Regions from separate parts of the Homo sapiens genome. Here region 1 is linked to region 2. The links come from fine-mapping of genetic effects on gene expression. A gene starts in region 2. The other region holds a variant in brackets. All regions are shown on one strand. Distances are from middle to middle.

Region 1 (10,825 bases), 24 kb after region 2:
CCCGGGTGCTGTCAGGTGGGCAGAGAGTAGCAACCCTGTTCACAGCTGGGGCATCAGGGATCTCAGCCACACAGCAAGTTAGTGGCACAACTGGGCCAAAAGCTTGGCCTCCTGGTTCAGTTCCCTTCTAAATCCTTTACCTATCATTCAGGAAGAATGCTGGGTTTGGACTGCGCATGCACACAATTGCACACAATACTCTGGACATAAACAAGAAAAATGGTAGTGGCGGGAAGTTGATCATGGTTGGGAGAAGACAATTATCTTTTTTTTTAATCTCTGTAAGAAATAATAAAGAAACAAATTTGGGTGGGTGGGACAGCCTTGTGGAACAAATTTACGAAGTTAGTTCCCAGCATGTGGCACAAGGTTCCTGAGTGTGTTAATGACTGTGAACACTGCTGTGTTTGTTGAGTGAATTGTGGATGGTGGGATTTTGTGTCAGGTGGGTTTGATTAGCTGTGGCTGTCACCCTGTGAGTTAATAATAGGGCCGGGACTCCCGCAGTCCTCACCTCCTGGTTTCTGAGGACAGTGTTGTTTCTAATACCCCAGGTGCATGTGCTCAGTGGCAGGAATTTTTGCCAGCTGCAAAATGACCAGGGTTGGGTGGCAGACAGAGGATGTTGGATTTAGGTCAGGGGTTTGGTGGATTGGTGCTGCATCCATTCCAACCTTCATTACTGCAGAGCCTTGTAAGCTAAAAACTACATTTCCCAGACTTCCAGTGGTTCTGGAGGGAGGTTACCTTCCTGCTTCTTCACAGTAGCTACTGGCAAGCACCCCTATATGGGTTTGTCCACATCAGTGGTCCCTTACACATGTTTAGGGTTGAACTATGTCCCCCCTCCCCAAATTTCTATGTTTAATTCCCAGTCCTCAACACCTCAGAATTTGACCTTATTTGGAAACAGGGTTGCCACAGATGTAATTAGTTAATATGAGGTCAGACTGGATTAGGGTGGGCCCCTAATCCAATATGACTTATAAAAAGAGTACCTTTGGAAACAGCACACACAGGGAAAACACCATGAGAAGATGAAAGCAGATATCAGGGCGATACATCTACAAGCCAAGAAAGGCCAAAGATTGCCAGCAAGCCGCTAGAATCTAGGAGGCCTGGAACAGATTCTCTCTCACAGCCTTAGAAGGAGCCAGTTCTGCTGACACTTATCTCGGACTTCTAGCCCCCAGAGCTGTGAGATAAATTCCCATCATTTAAGCCACCCTGTCTGGATGGAGTGTTTGGTTACAGCAGCCCTGCCTGACTGACACAACCGGTCGCTGGCTTTGTGGGTGTGGCAGAGGCAGGAGTGACCTCCTAACCCTGGACACAGCTGCAGCAGTGTATTCTTCACATGACAGTGGAGCTCCCCCTCCAGAGTCCACTGTAGTCAGAGTTATCCAGCTAAACAGAGCCAACGGGATATATAGAGACACAGAAGAGGAGAGTTATCTCGGAAATTGGCTTACATGATTATAAAGGCCAGCAAGTCCCACGTTTTGCCACCTGCAAGCTGGAGGACCAGGAAAGCTGCTGGTATGACTTAGTCCAGGTTCAAAGGGCTGGAGCCAGGGGTGCCACTGGTGTAAGTCCCAGAGTCCCAAGGAGCAAGAACCAGGAGCTCTGATGTCTGAAGCCAGAAGAAGACACATGTTCCAGCTCAAGAAGAGAGAATTCACCCCTCCTCCACCCTTTTGTTCTAGTCAGGCTCTCGATGGACTAGATGCTGCCCCTCTGCATTGGCAAAAAGCGATCTGCATTGAAAAGCCAATCTCTTCCAGAAACACACCAACAGACACATCCAGGAGCAATGCTTTACCAGCTATCTGGGCATCCCATAGCCCAATCAAATTGATACATAAAATTAACCATCACATCACTTCTGATGGCAGTAGAGGTAGCATCTGCCTTGACAGGACAATTTTGTGGTTTTCAAAGTCATTCCCAAGGGTCCTTTCTAGGGCCCACTTCTCTAATTTTCCTAATTGCATAAGCTTCCGATTCCCTGTAGTAAATCCCTTTCTGCTCAAATGAGCAGGAATAATTGCTTTCCTGCACATGGACCCTGACTGGTAAGACTTGATTAGACAATGGACACTGAATTAAATTTTCAATTTTTCACAGTTGCCATACATAAATTCTAAAACAAAGTAAGCTGTCAAGGTCTCGTGGTATGCCTTTTTAAAAGTGATAATTGGACTGGGCATGGTGGCTTATGCCTGTAATCCCAGCACTTTGGGAGGCTGAGGCGGGTGGATCACCTGAGGTCAGGAGTTCAAGACCAGCCTGGCCAACATGGTGAAACCCCATCTCTACTAACAGTACAAAACTAGCCGGGTGTGGCAGCACATCTCTACTAACAGTACAAAATTAGCCAGGTGTGGTAGCATATGCCTGTAATTCCAGCTACTTAGGGGGCTGAGGGAGGCTGAGGGAGGAGAATCACTTGAACCCAGGAGGCGGAAGTTACAGTGAGCCAAGATTGCACCACTGCACTCCAGCCTGGGTGACAGAGGAAGAAACCCTCTCAAATAAATAAATAAATGTGATAATTGCCTAAAAACAAGAAATGCTCAATGAAAATCAAGACAAAAATCAAATACAGAAAACTATAGTGAAGTAAGCCCAAATCACCCCAAATTCCCTCCACCCAGAGATAACTTCTCTTCTTATTTTGTTGAACGTTCTTTCACACATCGAACGGTGCATTTTACATGCACGGTCACATGTGTTACCCTGCACTGTTCAGGGTGCAATTAGTGTGGCCCGGTTTTCCTTGAAACTTCAAGTGTTCAAGCCCCATGTGCTGGTGATAGCAGGAAGTCCAGCATGCAGCCCAGCTGCTCTCTACAGGGTTTTCACTGCCTCCCTCTTACACACAGAGGGTTCCCGTACAGGCGTCTTGGAAGGAGGTGTCCAGACCCATGTGGTCTTGTATCAGTGCACTGACCATGGTGGAAGGACATGAATAACCGAGCAGGAGCTAATCTTGGTGAGTAATATTCGAGTTGTCAGTCAGGTTCACTACTCCCAAAGCAGCCACGGTAGTGGAAGACGGTGCTCCCCCTAGACCAGAGAAGGGCTCCAAGCCAACCACCCAGGGCCCTTCAATGCAAGCCTTTCCCACAAAGATTTGGGAGGACTGGGCTACACCATTGTTCCCCTTCCCATAACCATTCTTCCCTGGCGATCAACATAAAAGGTGTGTTACATCCTTCTCTCAGGACAATGAGTTAATTCACCCTCCCCTGCCATTCCCAAAGATACTACCTTTGGGCACTCCACAGTGACTTCCTGTCCTGGCCTATCTGTGAAGTAGATTAGGGAAGAGACAACACACAAATTCAACCTCCAGCAGGGCGCCTTGCTACTCTCACACTTACCCTCTCCTGACACACACATACGTACACATCATTTGACTTAAAAGGGATTATACAATTTATCTTCTTTAATACCATGCTTTTAAAAAAAAAAAAAAAAAAAGAACAAAAACTCGTGCCGGGCACGGTGGCTCATGCCTGTAATCTCAGCACTTTGAGAGGCCGAGGCGGGCGGATCACAAGGTCAGGAGATCAAGACCATCCTGGCTAACACGGTGAAACCCCATCTCTATTAAAAATACAAAAAATTAGCCAGGCGTGGTGGCACATACCTGTAGTCCCAGCTACTTGGGAGGCTGAGGTGGGAGAATCGCTTGAACCCGGGAGGCAGAGGTTGCAGTGAGCCGGGATCGCACCATTGCACTCCAGCCTGGGTTACACAGTGAGACTCCATCTCAAAAAAAAAAAAAAAAAAAAAAACTCAATAGCAAGTTGTAGACAGTTTTTTGTTTGTTTTGTTCTGTTTTGTTTTGTTTTGTTTTGTTTTGTTTTGTTTTGAGACAAGGTCTCATTCTATAGCCCAGACTGGAATGCAGTGATGCAATCTCGGCTTACTGTAGCCTCTGCCTCCCAGGCTCAAGTGATCCTCCCACTTCAGCCTCCCAAGGAGCTGGGATTACAGGCACAGTCCACCATGCCCAGCTAATTTTTTGTATTTTTTATAGAGACGGGGTTTCACCGTGTTGCCCAGGATGGTCTCAAACTCCTGGGCTCAAGAGATCCTCCTGCCTCAGCCTCCCAAAGTGCTGGGATTACAGGTGTGAGCCACCACGCCTAGCCATGTGGGCAGCTTTCCATGGTATGATGCTTTTGAGAAAATGGTTGGATTGCAAGGCAAATAATTATAGGCATTTCATCACTAATTGTCCATATTCCCACCTCCCACATACCAACTCTACCAACAAAAAAAAAGTTTTATGTTCATTGAAGAGAACATATGGGGCTTGATTTTTAACTCAGGGGTTATGGGCCTTTTCAATATAAAATTGTTTCCCAACTGGCCACCTCTGAGCTGAGCCTCCTGGGTAGAATTAGTGTGAATTCAGGGTTGGAGATTAGGGACAGGTTGGGAGGTGAGAACAGAAAGGGTGAAGTGAAGCCCATACGATCTCAGGGCTGGGAAGGGACTTGCCAAGTTGTCCAGCCTCTGCTTGCATTCCCTTAATAACAGGGAACTCACCACTTTACCAAGACAGCTTGTTAGCCCACTTCATCCTTGGTTAGTTCCACTGGCTTAAAAAGTATTTCCCATGTGGATCTAGATTCCATCTTCCTAAAGGTTCCAACTGTACCAATTCAAGGTCTTCCTTGGTCACTCTGTAGAGAAGTAGAGCCGGCTCTCCCAGGGCCCATGAGTCCTCTATTCTCCTGGACAGGGTCCCCCTCCCCCTGACTAAATACACCATCTGAAAACACAGGACTCAACGATGCAAACTCACTCTCATACTCAGCTCCTAACAGGAACCTCCCTTCACCTCCCAAGAAGCCTTACTCACACATACCAAGCCGCAGTCTGTCGAC[C/A]TGTTTTCTCTAGGAATGGAGGGATTTCAAGGCTGCCTCTCCCAGTCTGGAAAGAAAAGCCACTTCACAGAATGAGTTGTTCATAATGTAAAGTGTTCATAACTCCCAAGAGACAGTATGGGCAGGAAATAGAAACAGCTTCCAAATATTTGAGACAGATTTATGGACACTGAGTCACAAATGGCTGCCATATACTTCGCCTTTTGAGCTAGTCTGGTGGCAGAACACCTCTCTCCTGATATTCAAGGACCTGTCTCCAGGTCGCTTCAGTTCCTTGTCTTGCCTCTCGCAATGGGCTTTCTGCTGACCAAGCCCATTGACTCATGGGCGTAGCCGACTAAAGCACTCGGCCAGGTGCAGAGTTTTTGGGCATTTCAATGGTGGGGGTCTCCCCACAGCTTGCACTGCTAGTTTTTCTGTTTGTTCTTGATGACGAACTCTCTACTGTTTATACAGTAGCAGAACTCACAGAAGCATAACTTACGTTTCACAGCCTCCAGAGTGGACTTTACATAAACACGATGTTTCTGTTAGGCCGGCTTTATCTTCCCTCTAGAGTCTGTCAGTGGTGCTTTGGAGTATTCGACTGGGCCACTGTGCAGGGTTGGGGAGTGGTGTCACAAGCCTTCCCTAACCCACCATCTCTGACCTGCACCCCAGGGCATGCACATGAACGGAATTCATCTTCTTGGTTTGGAAAAGAAGGGGGTGACATTAGTGGCGAAACCTCCGTGTAGAGCTCTCGCACCGCAACTCTGAGTCATAGCTTACATCGATCAAGCACTCACTCTGAAGCAGGCTCGGGGCTAAACCTTCACAACCATTGACTCTGTGCTACAGAGGAGACAGTGATCTTCACAGAAGTTAGTTCCCAGAGGGCTTTCCCCAGCCCCACCATTGGGAGCAGAGGGGCAGGGCTGAGCCCAGTCTCACTCGAGTCCTGCTCACACCTTCCTCCAGGACTGCACGGGCCACCTCGCCCAGCCCTCATGGCAATGCTGAAGGCAGGTGTGATTCTCGCCATTTTACCCAAGGGGAAAGGGAGGCACCGGGGGAAAGGGAGGCTGGGAGCGGCAGACCTCACAGCTAGGAAGTGGCCAAGGCAGGAAGAAGCCCACCGGCCTTTCAACACCAACAGAATTCTTTCCTCAGAAGGAATGAGGGAGGGTGGAGGGGTAAGGACATGGCATTTTTAATCCTCCTGTTGGACTGGGAGGCTCTCAAGGTCAGGGACAGTGTCTGATTCAGCACCCCACCCCCTCGGGCCCTCAACTGGCCCCACTCAGGATGTCACAAGGCCCCGTGTGCTGCTGGAGGGGGTCCCAGGGTCGGTGACAGGCAGACCACAGCCTCTGGCCTGGAAGGAGGAGAGAGGGATTGGCAGGCCCATCCAGGCTGGGGGTCTGAGGAACTGTGAATGAGGCCGTGAACAGAGACCGCTGGGGTCCAGCAGGCCTGGCTGCAGAAGGGAAGCTCTGCGCAGTGGAAGGCAGGACCCGGTGGCAGCCCTGGGAGCAGGCCCCGCTGGCCCCTGGGAGAAGACCTCCATGGGCCTCAGCACGACACTCCTAGGCTGGCAGCCGAGGCCTGGTTCACGTGATCCCTTGATTTGTGTTTTCTGACCTTTCTTCACAGACACTCTAGGAAGCCTGGGGACACAGAGCCTGCCAGGGGAAGTCACACTCTCATGAAAGAGCTAGCCAGCAAGAAACTAGAACCGTGGACATGTAAGATAGGCACATGCGTGGCGAGTCCGAAGCGGGAAGCAAGCAGAGGGTGTGACAGAATACTGAGGGGGCCAGGGAATGGCTCTTCCAGAGGAGACTTCTGAGTGGGAGACAGGAGCAGGGGAAGGAGCAGCATGAGCTCTGGGAAGAAGGCATTTTTGGCAGCGAGCAATGCAAGTGCAAAAGCCCTGAGGCATGAAAAACACTAAAGAATCTGTAGGAGGCCAAGGTGGCCAAGCAAAAGGAGAAAGAGGGACTCCGGCAAGAGATGGGCATTTCTCAGGACTGCGGTGGCAGGGAAAAGAGAGCCCCCTGAAGGACATTCCACATTCAAACCCCTGCCCTGTGGTGACCCTGCCAGGTGGCTGGGTCAGGATCTTCCCTGTCAGGCCCAGGCCTCGTTTGCATGATGATGGGAGTAGCTTCCCACGGTCTGGGCTCTCCTTCCCCATGTTCTCCTGTTCCCCCAATTCCCATCACCCAGATTCCAGGAGCCAGGACTGGTGTCTCCCCTACTGGAGGTTCCCAGAAAGTCTCAGAACTCCCACTGCAGTCCTGGGACACAGGGGCTGGGGGAGGAAGGAAATTCTCACACAGCTTTCTCCCAGGGAGTTTGCTCTTGTTCCCAGGCTGACAACTGGCAACCCTCAGAACTCTGTTCCCCACCCCCTTCCTCCTCCTCCTCCTCCTCCTCCTCCTCCTCCTCCTCCTCCTCTCCCTGCCTCCCTCTCTCCCCTGCCCCCCTTCTCAGGCTTAATGACTTCCACATGGGCCTCTGGTGGCTGGAGCCAAGGCTCCCAGCATTGTCTGAAATCTCCAAATTTAGAAGAAATATGAAAATTGTCAACCACTCCTTCCTTAGGGGGTAAAAGCAACATTCAGCACCGGGGGCAGGTCAAGGCAAGGTAGTCACGTGGGGGGTGCCTGGGCCAATGGGGGGCCCTGGGAGGGCTCAGCACCCGCCTCGCCCCAATACGGGGCTTGCCTCTTCAGCTCATATAAGGTAAAAGGCAGAGTGGCCTCTGTGGCCAGGGAGCCGCAGGCAAGGGACTAAGGGGAGGGGGGCTCAGTGCCAGCTGCTTAAAAATGCCCCTGTGGCAGCGAGGGGCACCAGAGGCTGGGTCTAATTAGTTGAGAAGCAGTGACACCCCCAACCACTCCCCAAACAGGCTGGCTCCCGTCTCCAGGCCCCAAGGAGCCACACCTGGACCAGACCCCAGGAAAGGTAAGCACCAACGGCAGACCTGGGATCCGTGGGTGGGGGCCTCTGGGAATTTCCCTAGGGGGATGCTGCATCTGGGGGTCTTGCTGTCTTGCTAACTGGCTCTGTCCCTTTCTGGACACAGATTCTCTGGGTCTCAGTTTCCCCATCTGTACAGGGGCTGGAGTCAATGATCTCTAAGCATCCATCCAGCTGATCGGCTCTAGTTCTATGGTCCTGTTGGCTTCTAGGATTCCTTGTTGTTGTAGTCAATTGGGGGAAGAAGGTGCAGAGGGAGTGCACAGAGTTAACATCCTATCAGCCCAAGCTTCACCTCGGCACCCGAGTCTCAGGCAGTCTCCCTGGCTTCTACATAGGCAGTGCTTCTTCCTCATTGTGTGGGGCTTTGATTTTGTAATTCCAAGAGCCTGGGGCTCCTGGCAAGGAAAATGGTTTTCAAATAATGGTTTCGAGAAACAAAGCTGGGGAAGAGGCAATGTAAGCTCAGGCTCTGGCAGGCAGGCAGAGATCCTGGGAAGGCTGGGTGCTGACTGCACATGGAGCAATGGGAAGGGATGCTGGTGAGAGGAGACGGGGGCACTTAAGCTCCGGCCCCAGCTCTGCTCTCAGTGCCCGGCTCTGTGGTCTTGGGCTGGCCCCCTCCCTTCTCTGGGCCATAGTTTTCCCATCTGTATAGCAAGGCCATTGGACAAAATGGTCCCTCTGCAGATGTGGCTTCTGAGTTGTTTGTGCCTGAGGGACAGCCAGTGTTGGGAAGTTCCCCCAGGAGGTCCCTGAGCCGAGTCTGAACTTTGACCACAAGCTTGGAGTCCAAGCAGATGAAGTCCTGTGGGAGCTTTTGGAGGTTGAGCCTGAGTGAGGGAGAGTAGCTGAAGGTTCTGTGACTGAAGGCTTGGCCAGAGGGGTGCCCCGAGCCCTCCAGATGAACTTGGCTGCAACCAGCCTCTGGTGGGGAAAGGACTGATCTCTGGATTCAACCACACAGGAATGTGGGACATGGAAGTAGGTAAGGGATGGAAAAGATGGCAGAGGGCTTCGCGGGATGAAGCAGTGGGGCCAGGGGACTTAGAGGAATGCAGGAGGCTTGTGATGGGAGGCAGGGCTGGGTAGAGGCAGGGGCTTAGGATTGGAACTTGAAGATGTACAGACAGCATGGAGTCGGGCTCCTCTGAAAACACTCTGGCCACATCCGGAGCCCAGAACAGAACAGTCCTCTAGCACCGGCCTCTGTCTTGTACCCTCCACCTTCCCGCTTCTTGTCACACAAGACCCAAGGCCATCATGGTTCAGAAGGAGGCTCTGAATTCAACTGCCTGGGTCCAATTCTGGCTTGTTTACTTACTGGACAAGTGACCCTGGGCAAGTTGCTTGCTGTTTGAGCCTCAGCTTCCTCCTCTGTAAAATGGGTACAATTCTGAGCTTGCATGGTTGTCATGAGGAGTGAGGGATGTAGGCACATAGAGCAGGATGAATGGGGCTGATGTTACATCGCAGTCAGAGCCCACACCTCCTGCGGGCAAGATACCCTGAGCTATGTTGAGGGAGAAGTGGGAATGAAACCCGGCCAGGGAATGCCCAGAGTTGCTGAAGAGCTCTGGAACAGGCTCTGGAAAGAGGCAGGAGGAATCAAAAGTCAGAGGCTGTGGGACACAGGAAAGTGATCAGCTTGAGATGCCTGAAGGACTGGGGGGGATCTCCTTTCCTGCCTTTCTAGGGCATTGTGTGGGCAATGTATCTGAACCACTGTGCACTCACCCACTGACGGGGGACCCCAAGTGAGGCCTAGGAATCTGCATTACAAGCACCCCATGAATTCCCATGCATGTGGAAGTTTGCGAAATGCCAGGCTGTAGGGCGGCCTAGGACTCTCACAAACTGCCGAGGCAACGGAATCCACAGAGAGAAAGCACTGCTTTAGGTTATTTAGCGAGCTGATGGCAGAGGTGGAACAGAACCTGCCTCTCTGCCCAGCCAGGGATTCCATAAGGTGGTGCAAATCAGGAGAAATAGATGACACTATTTGTGGAGTTCTTATGAGGTCCAGGCACTACCTCAGATCTTCACATGAACTAATTCATTTAATCCTCACAAGAGCCAGTGAGGAAGGGGCAATTATTATCCCCACTCCACAGATGAGGTACCTGAGGCAAAGAGAGTTTAGGTGGCTTGCCTGAGGTCACACAGCTCATGAGTTGTTAAGTTGTGTGTGCCAGCTGCCCCTGGGGCTGCTAACTCCCCCAGGAGTCTCCCACCTCCTGCCCTGCCTCTTAGCTACCTCAAAACTTCCTGGAGACCCTCCAACAGACCTCATGGAAGGGGGCAGAATATGTATGGGAGACTTCTGGGAGTCAGACACTGTGCTGAACAGCTTGCATTATCATTTAATCCTCCCAGGATTCCTGTGAGGCAGGAATCAGCATCATTCCATCACCCTCACTTTCTAGAGAAGGAAACCACTGCAGATTACCCAATGTCACGCAATTAAAAAGTGGTGAAGGGGATTTGAACCTAGTCTATGCATCTGCAGAACGCACACTCTTGGGCTGCCCACCCCGACACCTCTGAGGGCAGTGATGAAGAATCCCACCTCACAGAGGAGACGGAGGCCAGGAGTGAGGCCCTGCCGGAGCCTGAGCCCAAGCCTTCTAGCTCTGAGGCCACTGCTCTCCCTTCAACCCTGTTGCTGCCCCGCAACAGAAAGTTTGTCATTGGTCCCTCACAGCCACACCACAGCCCTTTGGGCAAAATCAGCCCCTTCCCAGCCTGGCCAGTTCTGGGGGAAAATGACACCTGACACCTGACACCTATCCATTTTTTTTTTTTTTTTTGAAATGAGGTCTCCCTCTGTCAACCAGGCTGGAGTGCAGTGACTCTTCTCAATTGACTGCAACCTCTGCTTCCCAGGCTCAAGTGATCCTTCCACCTCAGCCTCCCAAGTAGCTGGGATTACAGATGTGTGCCACATCTGGCTA
Region 2 (10,760 bases):
GCATGGTGGCTTACGCCTGTAATCTCAGCACTTTGCGAGGCCAAGGCAGGTGGATTGCTTGAGCTTAGGAGTGTGAGACCAGCCTGGGCAACATAGTGAGATCCTGTCTCTACAAAAAATAAAAAAAAAATCAGCCAGGTATGCCTGTGGTCCCAGCTACTGGGAGGCTGAGGTGGAAAGATTGCTTGAGCCCAGGAGGCAGAGGCTGCAGTGAGCCGAGACCATGCCACTGTACTCCAGCCTGGGTAACAGAGTGAGACCCTGTCTCAAACAAAAAATAAAAAAATTAATCAAAGTTAATCCCTCAGTCACAGTAGCCACATGTCAAGTGCTCAGTAGCTGCATGAGGCTAGTGGCTACCATACTGGACTTTACATCATCACAGAAAGTTCTGGTGAACAGTGCTATTCTAGAGTCTCAGGGTATATGTCATGTGGCTGAAAAATCTCTGGCCTGGGTTTGTGAGTGAGGACCTCAGGGTCAGCCCTTTCCTTCATCTTTGGTCCTTACTATGGGTCAGGCACTGAGCAAGGAAGCGGAGCTACAACCAAGAGAGGACGCTGCTGCCATCGTTATCCAGGGCAATGGGTCTTGATTCCCAAATCGCAGCCTGCTGTGCGCCCTGATCACGTGGAGCTATAAGAAATAGCACTTCCTGGGCCTCACCGCTGGAGGTTTGGATTGGGCATGGGAATCCCTAGGTGATTCTGATGCCGGCACTGGGAAGGCCCAGGTCCAGCATAAGAGACAGACTGGAACACCGCATGGAAGCGCCACACCTGAGAAGGGCGTCCGAGGCCCACAGAGCAGAGGAAGTGACATCTGGGGAAAGCCTTGCAGGCACTTCCATGGAGACTTGAAGAACAATGAGGGCAGTGCTCTGCATGGATATCTCACTTAACAAGACTCTGAGGTACTACTGTTGCCTCCATTTACATTGAGGAAACTGAGGCCCAGAAAGGCTAATCCATTTGCCCAAAGCCTCACAGGCAAGTAAGAGGCAGAGCTAGGGTTCGAACCCAAGCACCCAGACCTCTGAATCTGAGATCTTAACCATTACAATGACTGGGGCACAGGAAAGGTCCCCACCCCCCAAAGACAGCTTGCCACCACTGCCCAGCCTACCTGTAGCCCCAGGGAGACAGGCTCCTCTTGTTGGACATCCACAGCTGCAAGTTGACCTCACACTTTCTCTGGGCCAGCTCTGAGCTGTTCCTCAGCTGGGCCACCATCTCCTCGATGTTCCTCTCATACTCCTCCATGCGGGCATACGGTTTCATCCGTGACACCAGGTCCAGTGGCACCTGGTGAGGGCCAGGGGCCAGGGGCCCAGGCCGCCCTTGCCCCTTCCTCTTGCTTTTGGGGCTCCTGGGCTGGCCCAGCCCCAGGAAGATGGAAATGGTAAGAAGAAACAGCTGGGGAGGAAAGCCACAGGTCAAAGGTGGGAGAGCCAAGTCTCTATCTGGGCCAAGACTTGGGGTCCATGGTCCTTTCCCATTGCTCTTAGGGGTCTCCCAGGCTCAGGTCTGACTCTGCCTACCATCCCCCAGCTCTCCCTCCTCAGATTACCCCCTGTTTCCTCTCTCTTGTGTGTTCCAGCCTCTGGTCTTCTCTCAGTCTTACACTCAGCATGCTCCTTCCTGCCACAGGGACTTTGCACAGCCTCTGCCTGCAGCATTCTGCCTCTTCACCTCCTGGACACCTTCCCACCCCTCGTGTCAGCTTTAGCATCGCTTTCTTAGGGATGCCTCTGGACTTTCTTGGGCTCTCATAACCCACACACCTCTTGCATGACTTCAATCTTAAAGTTTGTGTATACAATTCTTTTATGTGTCTGCCCCCAACTCAGCATGGACTCCGTGGGGGCACGTGTCAGTTTCCACACACTGTCATATCTCCCGTGTCTGCGTGATGCATTCAGTGAACACTCACTGAGTAAATGAATGGCTGTCCCCATCGCTGCCCTTCTGTCATTTATGTCTAAGAAGGAAGACAGTGAACAAGAAGACAAACACCCAAGTCTCCCTAGCGACAAGTCCAGGATGGGCCCATTCAGGGTGTGGCTGGAGAAGAGTGGGGCCTCCTGCTTAGCTGTGCTGGGACAATGGCCTGGGAAACTTTTCTGGGGAAGGGACATGTCAGGTGAGGCATGGCAGGCATGGGCTGAGGGAGTTGAAGTCTTGCAGGTGTGGGAGGGGTGGGTTGGGGGAAGATGAGAGAGGAGGTTTGAACTGGTTAAGAACTTTGCTGTGGCCGGGCGTGGTGGCTCACACCTGTAATGCCAGCACTTTGGGAGGCCGAGGCGGGCAGATCACAAAGTCAGGAGATCGAGACCATCCTGGCTAACACTGTGAAACCCCGTCTCTACTAAAAATACAAAAAAATTAGCCGGGTGTGGTGGCGGGTGCCTGTAGTCCCAGCTACTTGGGAGGCTGAGGCAGGAGAATGGCCTGAACCCGGGAGGCGGAGCTTGCAGTGAGCCGAGATCACACCACTGCACTCCAGCCTGGGCGACAGAGCGAGACTCCTCTCAAAAAAAAGAAAAAAGAACTTTGCTGAATCGAATGGAATGTTGATTAAGAGTGGGTGGGAGGAAGAGGGGATGAGATGAAGCTGGGGAGATGGGCAAGTTATGGGCTAAGGATGTCCTGTCCGCCTGCACTGCCCTTCTCCCCTGAGCCTTCCCTCTTCCAGCCATCCCCCAAGCCCTCCTCACACACACACACCCTCACCCATTGCCATCCACTTCTCCCTCCCAGCACCAGAGTATCAGGAAAGCCTTTGGCTCACAAGGAAGAGGACTCAGGCCCGGCAGAAGCCAGACTCCCCAGGAATCCAGAGAGAAGGGACAGTGCCTGCGTGTGAGGCAGAGCTCCCAGGATGGAGGCACCTCTGACTCCTCTTAAATTGAGATAGGCTCCATATGTTCCCTGTATGCCTCACCTCACAGCCCCACAGCCCCATGGCCCATGCCTGCTTTATCCAGGCTACCCAGCAAGTCTTGACCCTAGGAAACAAGTTTCAGCAGAGCCCCTCTTGGCAGAGGTATTTGCTGGCACAAAATCTGCAACAGAGATTCAAGTGCTAAATTCTTCCTTTTTGGTCCTAGATTCTAGTGCAGAAAAAATGTCTCCCTAACAATAGGCTCTCTCTTTAGAGTTTCTCACAGGGCATTCTTAAACTCTGGCTCTCCACTCGGAGAAACGTAGAATAGAATCAAAGTCCCCCTCCCTCACTCTCCAGATGGGACACTGAGAAACAGAAGGACTTGCCCAAGGTCACACAGCCAGGACCTCAGAAGCCGGGTCTCTTTGGAAAAACCCCGATAACTGAGTTTGCCGGGATCTCCCCAGACGCCTCTGGTCTGAAAAGGCTTCAGTGTGCCCCGGCTGAGCCCCGTTCAGGAGCCTGCACTGCTGGCCATGGCTACAGTGACCAGTCTCTGTTTCTTTCTAGTCCTGGGGGAGAAGACAGAGAAGTTGCCTCTGCAGATTCTAAACCAAACAGAGGCAGCCATTAATAAATAGGAAAGAAAAACTGACATATTTGGGCTCTTAAAAAGGGGTGGGGGTGCGGCAGGGAAGCGCCACGTACCAGGTTGTGAGGCCAGTCCATTCCGCCAAGCTGCAAGGTCAGCCTGCAGCTGCTGCCCGCCTGGAACCCCAGATGCCGCCGAGAGAATGGCAGCAACAGGATGGAGCGAAGCAATTATAGCTCAACTGGGGGCTGCTGGGGGAGTGAGTGGGTGGGCTCGTCATCAGCTGGGAGCCTTGGGCCCCCAGCTGGCTGAGCCTAGCGCAGTGGCAGGCGGTGAGGGGCGTGGGGGCAGGCCAGGAGCCGAGCTGAGGTGCCCAGGGGCTGTTGACCGAGGGACAATGCCCTGTGTGTCTGGTGGGGCTCTGGCCGGTGGCACCTCCGCCTGTGGCCTGCGGCCGGCCGCCCAGCCAGCACCCACAGGGCCAGCTAAGACAATCAGCTTCGTTTGCTTAGGGGATGGCAAGGGGTTGAGGGTGGAGGAGGGATGGGCCGTTGGTTGGTCAGGAGAGCAAATGTTCTCAAATTGTGCTGGCCAGGAGTGGGACACAGGCCCCATCTCCCAGGGAAACAGCCTCAGGCACTCCAGCCTCTGCCGGCCTCAGGTGAGTTCAGCAGCCCTAGGAGACCAAAGCCCCACCCCTCTAGATCACAGTCAAGGAAACTGAGGCTGGAGCCAGAAAGGGACTTGTCACTATTAACAGTGAGTTAGAGGTGTCAGAGCTGCTATTCTCACCCTGTCCCCATCCAGGGCTCTATCCACCACCCCATGTTGTTTTTCTTGGGAGACTTTCCGCACAATTTCAGCCTGCTGTGAACATATTTCTGAAGCTGTACGCCCTCACTCTGGCCAAGTTTCAGATCCATGAGGACTTACGGCTGATTGTCCTGGCCTTCCTGACACAGCACTCTCCCTCCTGGGGTGGTCTCCGCTCTCAGAGACTGTGTGGCTGCATGTGAGCTTTACTGTCAGCCTCAGTTCCCTCCTCCATAAAATGGTGGGTGTATCCAGAAGTAGACGGTGGCCTGGCCCATTCCCTCCTGAAATCTTTCTGAGCCTCAGTTCCCACATCTCTAGAATGGGAAGAATCATGGCACCCTCTTAAAACTGCTATAAGGAATAAAGGAAATCACCTATGTTAAATAGCTGGCAACAGTACCTGGCACATAGTAAGTGCTCAATAAACACTTAGCTATTTATTATAGAGATTATTATAAAATAATTGTATAATTATTATAAACATTAGTTGTTCTAATTAGCATTAGAGGTAGCATGGTTCTCATTTCTCTACTGACTCTCCCTTCAACCCCCTCAGGCCCACCCTCCTGGCTGCTGAGAGAGGTCTAGGCCTCCAAGATTCAGGCCACAAGTTTGTGAGGTCGGATGACCTCAGGGTCCAAAGGTCCTGGAATCACATGCTCAACTGACCACCTCCTCTGGCCAATGTCTCTCACCTCAGGTGAACAGCCCAGCCCAATGTAAGCGGGCACATCCACCCAGGGAGGCAGGAATGGCGGGAGGGAATGTGAGGAGGACAGAGGAGGGGCATTGTGAACAGATACTGAGGACGGCCCTGTCGTGCTGAGGGCCGGTCTTGGCCATTTACAGGAATCGTCCGAGGGGAAGAAGGCAGGGTGAGAGGCGCTCCTGAATGTCACAAGATTAATCTGTCCGGGGCAGGCTTCCACAGCATAACTGAGATGCTGGCTGGGGCTCGAGCATGAGAGATGCCACCATATTTGGTCAAATACTAGACAGGGCTCTATTCTACCGTTGGAAACTCCAGAGGGAGGGGTACTCTGAAAATACCTCCTCAGGCAACAAGGGCCCCGCCCCCACCGCAGGCTGTCCCAGCCCCAGCCCCACTGGCCGGGCGGCCTGGCTGTGTTCTGTGCTGGCTCTCTGCACACACTCTGCTGCTGCTAGCAGTGGGGTCCCACAGACATGCAACTGGGGTGACCCTCCCATATCCACAGAACAGTGGCAAACTGAAAGATGGATGCTGGGGTATGGGGGACCCCTGAAACCAACACATTCTCCTTACCTGCTGGAAATACGCACCCCTCACTTCTGCCTCCCCAAGCCAGGACTGACTTGTCAGCTTCCCCTGCTCCAGCTGCAGTGCTTGCTACTTTAGATTTCAGGGTCCCAGCCCCAGAGATGCTGAAGTAGCAGCGCAAAAATCTGCATCTTAGCACGAGGCCAGTTTGGGAGCTACACGGGTCCTCACCCATCATCTGGCCCCCTCCTCCCACCCATTTTACTACAAGGAGACTTGGATAAGGGAGGGTCCTACCCCAGCTCACACAGTGCGTTTGTGCCAGAGCTGGGAGCAGAACTCCGTCTCCTAAGTCATTCATTGTTCTTCCCTCAGACTTTATACAAACAGCTCTGGGCCAGGCTGGGCCTCCTTGCTGGTCTGGTGGAGACCAAAGAGGCAGGCCAGTCCTTGTGGGGGCCCCAGATCCTTCACAGTGGGGAGGGGAGCTTTGGGGTCCCCTGGCAGGTGCTGTGAGGAGTCAGGCATGGGCCCAGCAACAGTCATTGGGTTTCCCATTCCTGGACCATCTCAGACCAGGAGGGAGACCCCTTCTTCCAGTCTTGGTTTCTAGAAACCCCTGGAGGGTCATCTGTCCTTTTTGATGTCCTGAGTGTGAACCCAGGCAGGCCTGTGGGACCCAGCCCCAGGACTCAGTGCCAGGCCTGAGAGGGAGGTGCAGGAACTGGGCTTCCAGGGCTCCCACCCCACGAGTGAGGCTGGGGTCCTTGGGTCTTAACACGCAGAGGGTGGTCAGCATGCGTGAATGAAGGACTGGGCAGATGAGCTACAGGGGAAGGGGCAGTGGGTGGCCGCGGTCTCGCTCAGAGCCCTCTGCAGCAGGCCCCGCCAGGAGCAGTGCTGCACTCACCAGCAGATGGCGCCACTAGAAAGCCAGCCAACCCTGAAAAATGTACTGACCCTGAGGGAACTTGCACTCTGCCACCTCTTTCTCCAAGAGCGGCCCGGGACTGAGAATGAGGGGATGGGGCGAGTGGGTGGGGCCCTGCGCCTGTGCCTGGCTTCCAGAGTGACCCTATTGTTGATGAGGACCAGAGCCTAGGAGACATCAGAGCCGGCCAGGAATGACACAGGCGGTGTCGGGGTCACCGATTCCAGGTGTCGGGGTCACCGATTCCAGGGGTCGGGTGAGGGCTTCTGTCTGCTGAGTGAGTGATTGCCTTTACTTTGAGCACCTGCTGTGTGCCAGGCCTCAGGCATTTGGCACCTGGACACCTTAATTCACAGAAAATAACAGTAACAATAATAGCTGCTACTTAATATCCACTTACTGACTGCCAGGCCATAAGCTAAATGCTTCATGAAATCCTCCAAATAACACTGGGTGAGGTCCTAGTTTTATTCTGAATTACAGATGGGGAAACTGAGGCTCAGCGTGGTTAACCACTTGCCCAAAGTCACAGAAGATTCACAGCAAGTTTGTCTGACTCCTGCACACACTGCTCCCTGCGGTGGAGTAAGGAGAGGGGCGGCAGCCAGGGGTGGAGGGGGAATGTCCAGTTGGTCAGCTGGTCATTGAGCACGGTCTGTGATGGCCTCAGCCTTGACCCATGGCCTCAAACAACCTGAACCCGGTAGGTTCGGGTGCTCACTAAACCCACGCCCAAGCCCAAGTCATCAAGGGGATCCGAGAGCTCCCAGGGTGCTCGTGGGGCACCCAACAGCATTCCTGGTATGTGAACTAAAATATTGATACATTGAATCAAACTGACTATAATACAGGGAGGCCATGCTGGGACAGAGGAGGAGGCCAGAGCAGAGGGACCTGGAGAAGGAAGTGCAGCCGGGAGGGCAGAGGTCAGCCTCCACAGATGGGCTGGCCTGAGTTTCAGCCCTGCCCCTGCCCCTTCACTGCTGTGTCATCTTGGGAATGTTAATTGACTTCTCTGAGCCTTAGTTTCTTCTGCAAAGTGAAGATAATAATAACTTGGCTCTCAGTGGATTGTTGTGAGGATCAAATGAGATAATGCACGTTAAAGCGCTTAGCACAGTCCCTGGCAAAAGTAAGTACCCCATTAATGGTAGCTGCAACTGTCATTCCTACAGTTAAAATGAGTTTTGAGTTGGGCCTTCAAGAATGCTTCTAGTACGTTCCTGGGTAGGAAGGGCATTACGAAGTGGGGACAAGGCTAGAACCAGCAGAAGAATGCAAAGGTGCCTATTTCCAGCGGGCCCACCCTAGAGCGTTGGCAAGGCCAGGGGGACCTGAAGGATTTGGTCTAAGAACTTGCCCAAGTGGACCCAGTAAGGTCAGGGAAGGCGGGAAGAGGCTAGTCGGCGCCTTTGCTGGCTGCGACCAGGAGGGTGCAGCCCCCTAGGGAGGTCCTGGCTCTCCTGCCATGCTGCCCTCCCCTCCCTCCCTGGTAGGAGTCCTTCTCCCAGGCCCATATTTGCACAAATGCTTGCCTCGCTGCTCACTCCAGAGCCCCAGCCAAGAGGTGCTATTTTAAGATCCCTGGACGGGAACATTGTTGGTGGGAACAGCCCCAGCCAGCAAGCTCCCAGTTCTCAAAAAAGGGAAAGGCCTGGGTGAATGGGCGGCCTCTGGGGTGTGCAGAGGGGCTGCCACGTCGACATGACCCTCTGCCCAGGCCAGGTGCCAGCGTCTCCTCCCCACAGGGGGAAGTCAAAGAAATGTGAGTTGGGGTAGGACTCCAAGAGGTGGTCTTGTTCACTGGAGACTGGGTCGCCTAGGCCTCTCTTCTGCAGAGCATCCAGACTTGAAAACACCAAGTTTGTGTTTCTGGGTTGCAAATTGACTCTACACTGTACCAAGTCTCTTGTTAGCACTCACCACCCACAGGCCATCAGAGGTAGGGGATACCTCATCCAGCCCTTAGCAAAGCGGGAACGCTTTCTAAGTGCCTTTGCTGGGTATCATCTCTCTAGGAATATCATTTCTCTCTGAGGATGCACAGTCCATTTTTTAAAACTCTGGTTGTTGAAAATAATTATAATTATAAAAGCTTTCTTTTTTATTTTGCAGAAGCCCTCCTCCTGTGGGGAAAGCACGGCAGACTTCAGGCAATGGTGGTTGGACATTTGCCCTGCCCCTTATTATATGGTCATGTCCACCCCCCTCACTTCAGTGGGCCTCCGTTTCCTCACGGGGTTGTTAAAATGCATTAATCATTAAAATTATTGTTTGCCTGGCACATAATGGTACTTAATATTTGGCAAGTTCGGGCTGATATTTTGTAATTTGGTTTGGTTTTATATGTGCCTGATTTTGATGTATAGTGTGTTTGTGGGTGTATGTGCTATTTTTGCTTTTTGATTATGAAGAGCCAGTATAGATTAATATTTAAAGCACAGACGATGAACCAGAGTGCTCTGAACCTCATCCCTGCTATGTAGCAGCTAAGTCACCTTGGGCAAGTGACCTAACCTCCCTGAGCCTATGTCCTTGAAAGAGAGGTGGGGGGTTAACAAGATTATATGTGGCAAGTGCCTGGCACAGGGAATGGCCCTGCTATTATTTTGTTGTATGCATTGTCCTTAGTTCTTCCCAATCAGGTGGCACAGAGCAATTCTAGTCAGCTCAATTCTAGCACTTTCTAACTGCCAGAGAGTCCCAGAAATAAAATGGACTGCCCTGGAAAAGAGTGATCTCTCTATCAGCAGAGAGCAGAACACTAGCCAGGAGATTCTAGAAGAGGAAGGAGTGGCCCAGGTGTGTGTTGTGGGGTGGAGGGGTTGTTGAGCTTTTTTTTTTTTTTTTTGAGATGGAGTCTCGCTCTGTAGCCCAGGCTGGAGTGCAGTGGCATGATCTCAGCTCACTGCAGCCTCCGCCTCCCAGGTCCCTGTTAAGCAATTCTCCTGCCTTAACCTCCCAAGTAGCTAGGATTACAGGCATGCGCCACCATGCCCAGCTAATTTTTGTATTTTTATTAGAAACAGGGTTTCACCATGTTGGACAGGCTGGTCTTAAATTCCTGACCTAGAGTTCGACACCAGCCTGACCAACATGGAGAAACTCCGTCTCTACTAAAAATACAAAATTAGCCGGACGTGGTGGCGCATGCCTGTAATCCCAGCTACTCAGGAGGCTGAGGCAGGAGAATCGCTTGAACCTGGGAGGCAGAGGTTGCAGTGAGCCAAGATCGTGCCATTGCACTCTAGCCTGGGCAACAAGAATGAAACTCCATCTCAGAAAAAACAAAAAAAAATCCTGACCTCATGATCCGCCTCAGCCTCCCAAAGTGCTGGCATTACAGGCGTGAGCCACCGTACGCGGCCAGTTTTTGAGCTTTTAAAGTTCCCTTCTAGCCTTGAGAGGTCCAGATCTGATGTCCAAGGCCTCAGGCCCCCATGTGGGGCTGTCAGGCCTGCTGTAACTCACCCAGACCTGGGACAGGAAGGAGTGCGAGAGAGCCTGTGGGGGACGTGGAATAAACAGCCTGTCTCCAGGGCAGACAGAGGCGCCAGGCCCCCTGCCCACTGGAGTGTCCTCCCCTCAGTCCCGGGGGATGTTTATCCTCTGCTCAGAGTTTACAGGACGTCTGGATTCACAAGATCTGGAATTCTGACTTTTCCCCCAAAGCTGTCAGCGTCTCCTCTGGCTGGGTGGGTCTGGGTCTGTTTTGGGTGGAAGGCCCCAACCCTGCCCTCAGCAGAAGCAGGAAACGGGTACAGAACAAAAAAAGTCCTCTTCAGCCCCCCAGAGCCGCTCCTGGCAGAGGAAGAGGCCACATCTGTGGGGACGTGAGAAGAAAACGTCAACATCTCCCAGCAGCTGCGTAGGGAGAGGAGTCCTGGGGGCTCATGGGTGGCAGGGGCTCATGGGTGGGGCAGAAAGGACTTCTTTTGCAGGTTGGGTTCAAAGGCCTGCACCCCGAACATTAAGCTACAAACCGATGGTACTTATCAAAGTCTGCCTTGCATATTGGCCTCTGTTGTTGGGTCAGAGAGTGCTGTTTTTATTGTGGTTGTTTTGGTGTATTGTGTGAGTGCAAATTTGTGGGTGGTGTCTTGTATGTGTGTGTTTTGTTATTGTTTTAAGAGCCATCAGGTAGGAGCTGTTCACAGACAGCAAGCATGTCTTACTCACAGATGCGGCTCTCAGCACCTGGCTCAGGGAGCTTGGGGCTGGCTTGCGATTAGGGCAGGATTAGCAGAGGAACGTCCTGAGAGCTGTGCACAACACAACACTTAGAGCACAGGCAG

Alleles and levels. Positions count from the first base shown, and alleles are read on the strand shown. Sizes are in standard deviations (SD) of each study's normalised expression.
As copies of C replace A in region 1, the expression in fibroblasts of the gene that starts at base 3,682 in region 2 goes down (small effect, 0.37 SD a copy in GTEx).

The links. PIP is the estimated chance that this variant, and not a neighbour inherited with it, causes the effect.
Region 1: its variant is fine-mapped to the expression of IL17B in fibroblasts (GTEx, PIP above 0.99).

Annotation. Positions count from the first base shown.
Region 1 is chr5:149,399,223-149,410,047 of GRCh38, forward strand. CARMN (cardiac mesoderm enhancer-associated non-coding RNA) reads left to right here and starts at 7,623. Exons shown (of 5, transcript NR_105060.1): 1 at 7,623-7,856. It also overlaps a transcript of IL17B not described here. RefSeq lists enhancers at 545-714, 5,671-6,261, 8,112-9,112. The variant C/A (reference allele first, on the strand shown) is at 4,905.
Region 2 is chr5:149,375,611-149,386,370 of GRCh38, forward strand. IL17B (interleukin 17B) reads right to left here and starts at 3,682. Exons shown (of 3, transcript NM_014443.3): 1 at 3,595-3,682; 2 at 1,126-1,415. The coding sequence starts at 3,615. It overlaps LOC101927046 (a long non-coding RNA gene), which reads left to right and starts at 6,626. Exons shown (of 2, transcript XR_245875.4): 1 at 6,626-6,742; 2 at 8,581-8,749. RefSeq lists enhancers at 3,930-4,464, 4,817-5,529, 6,956-7,667, 9,553-10,053.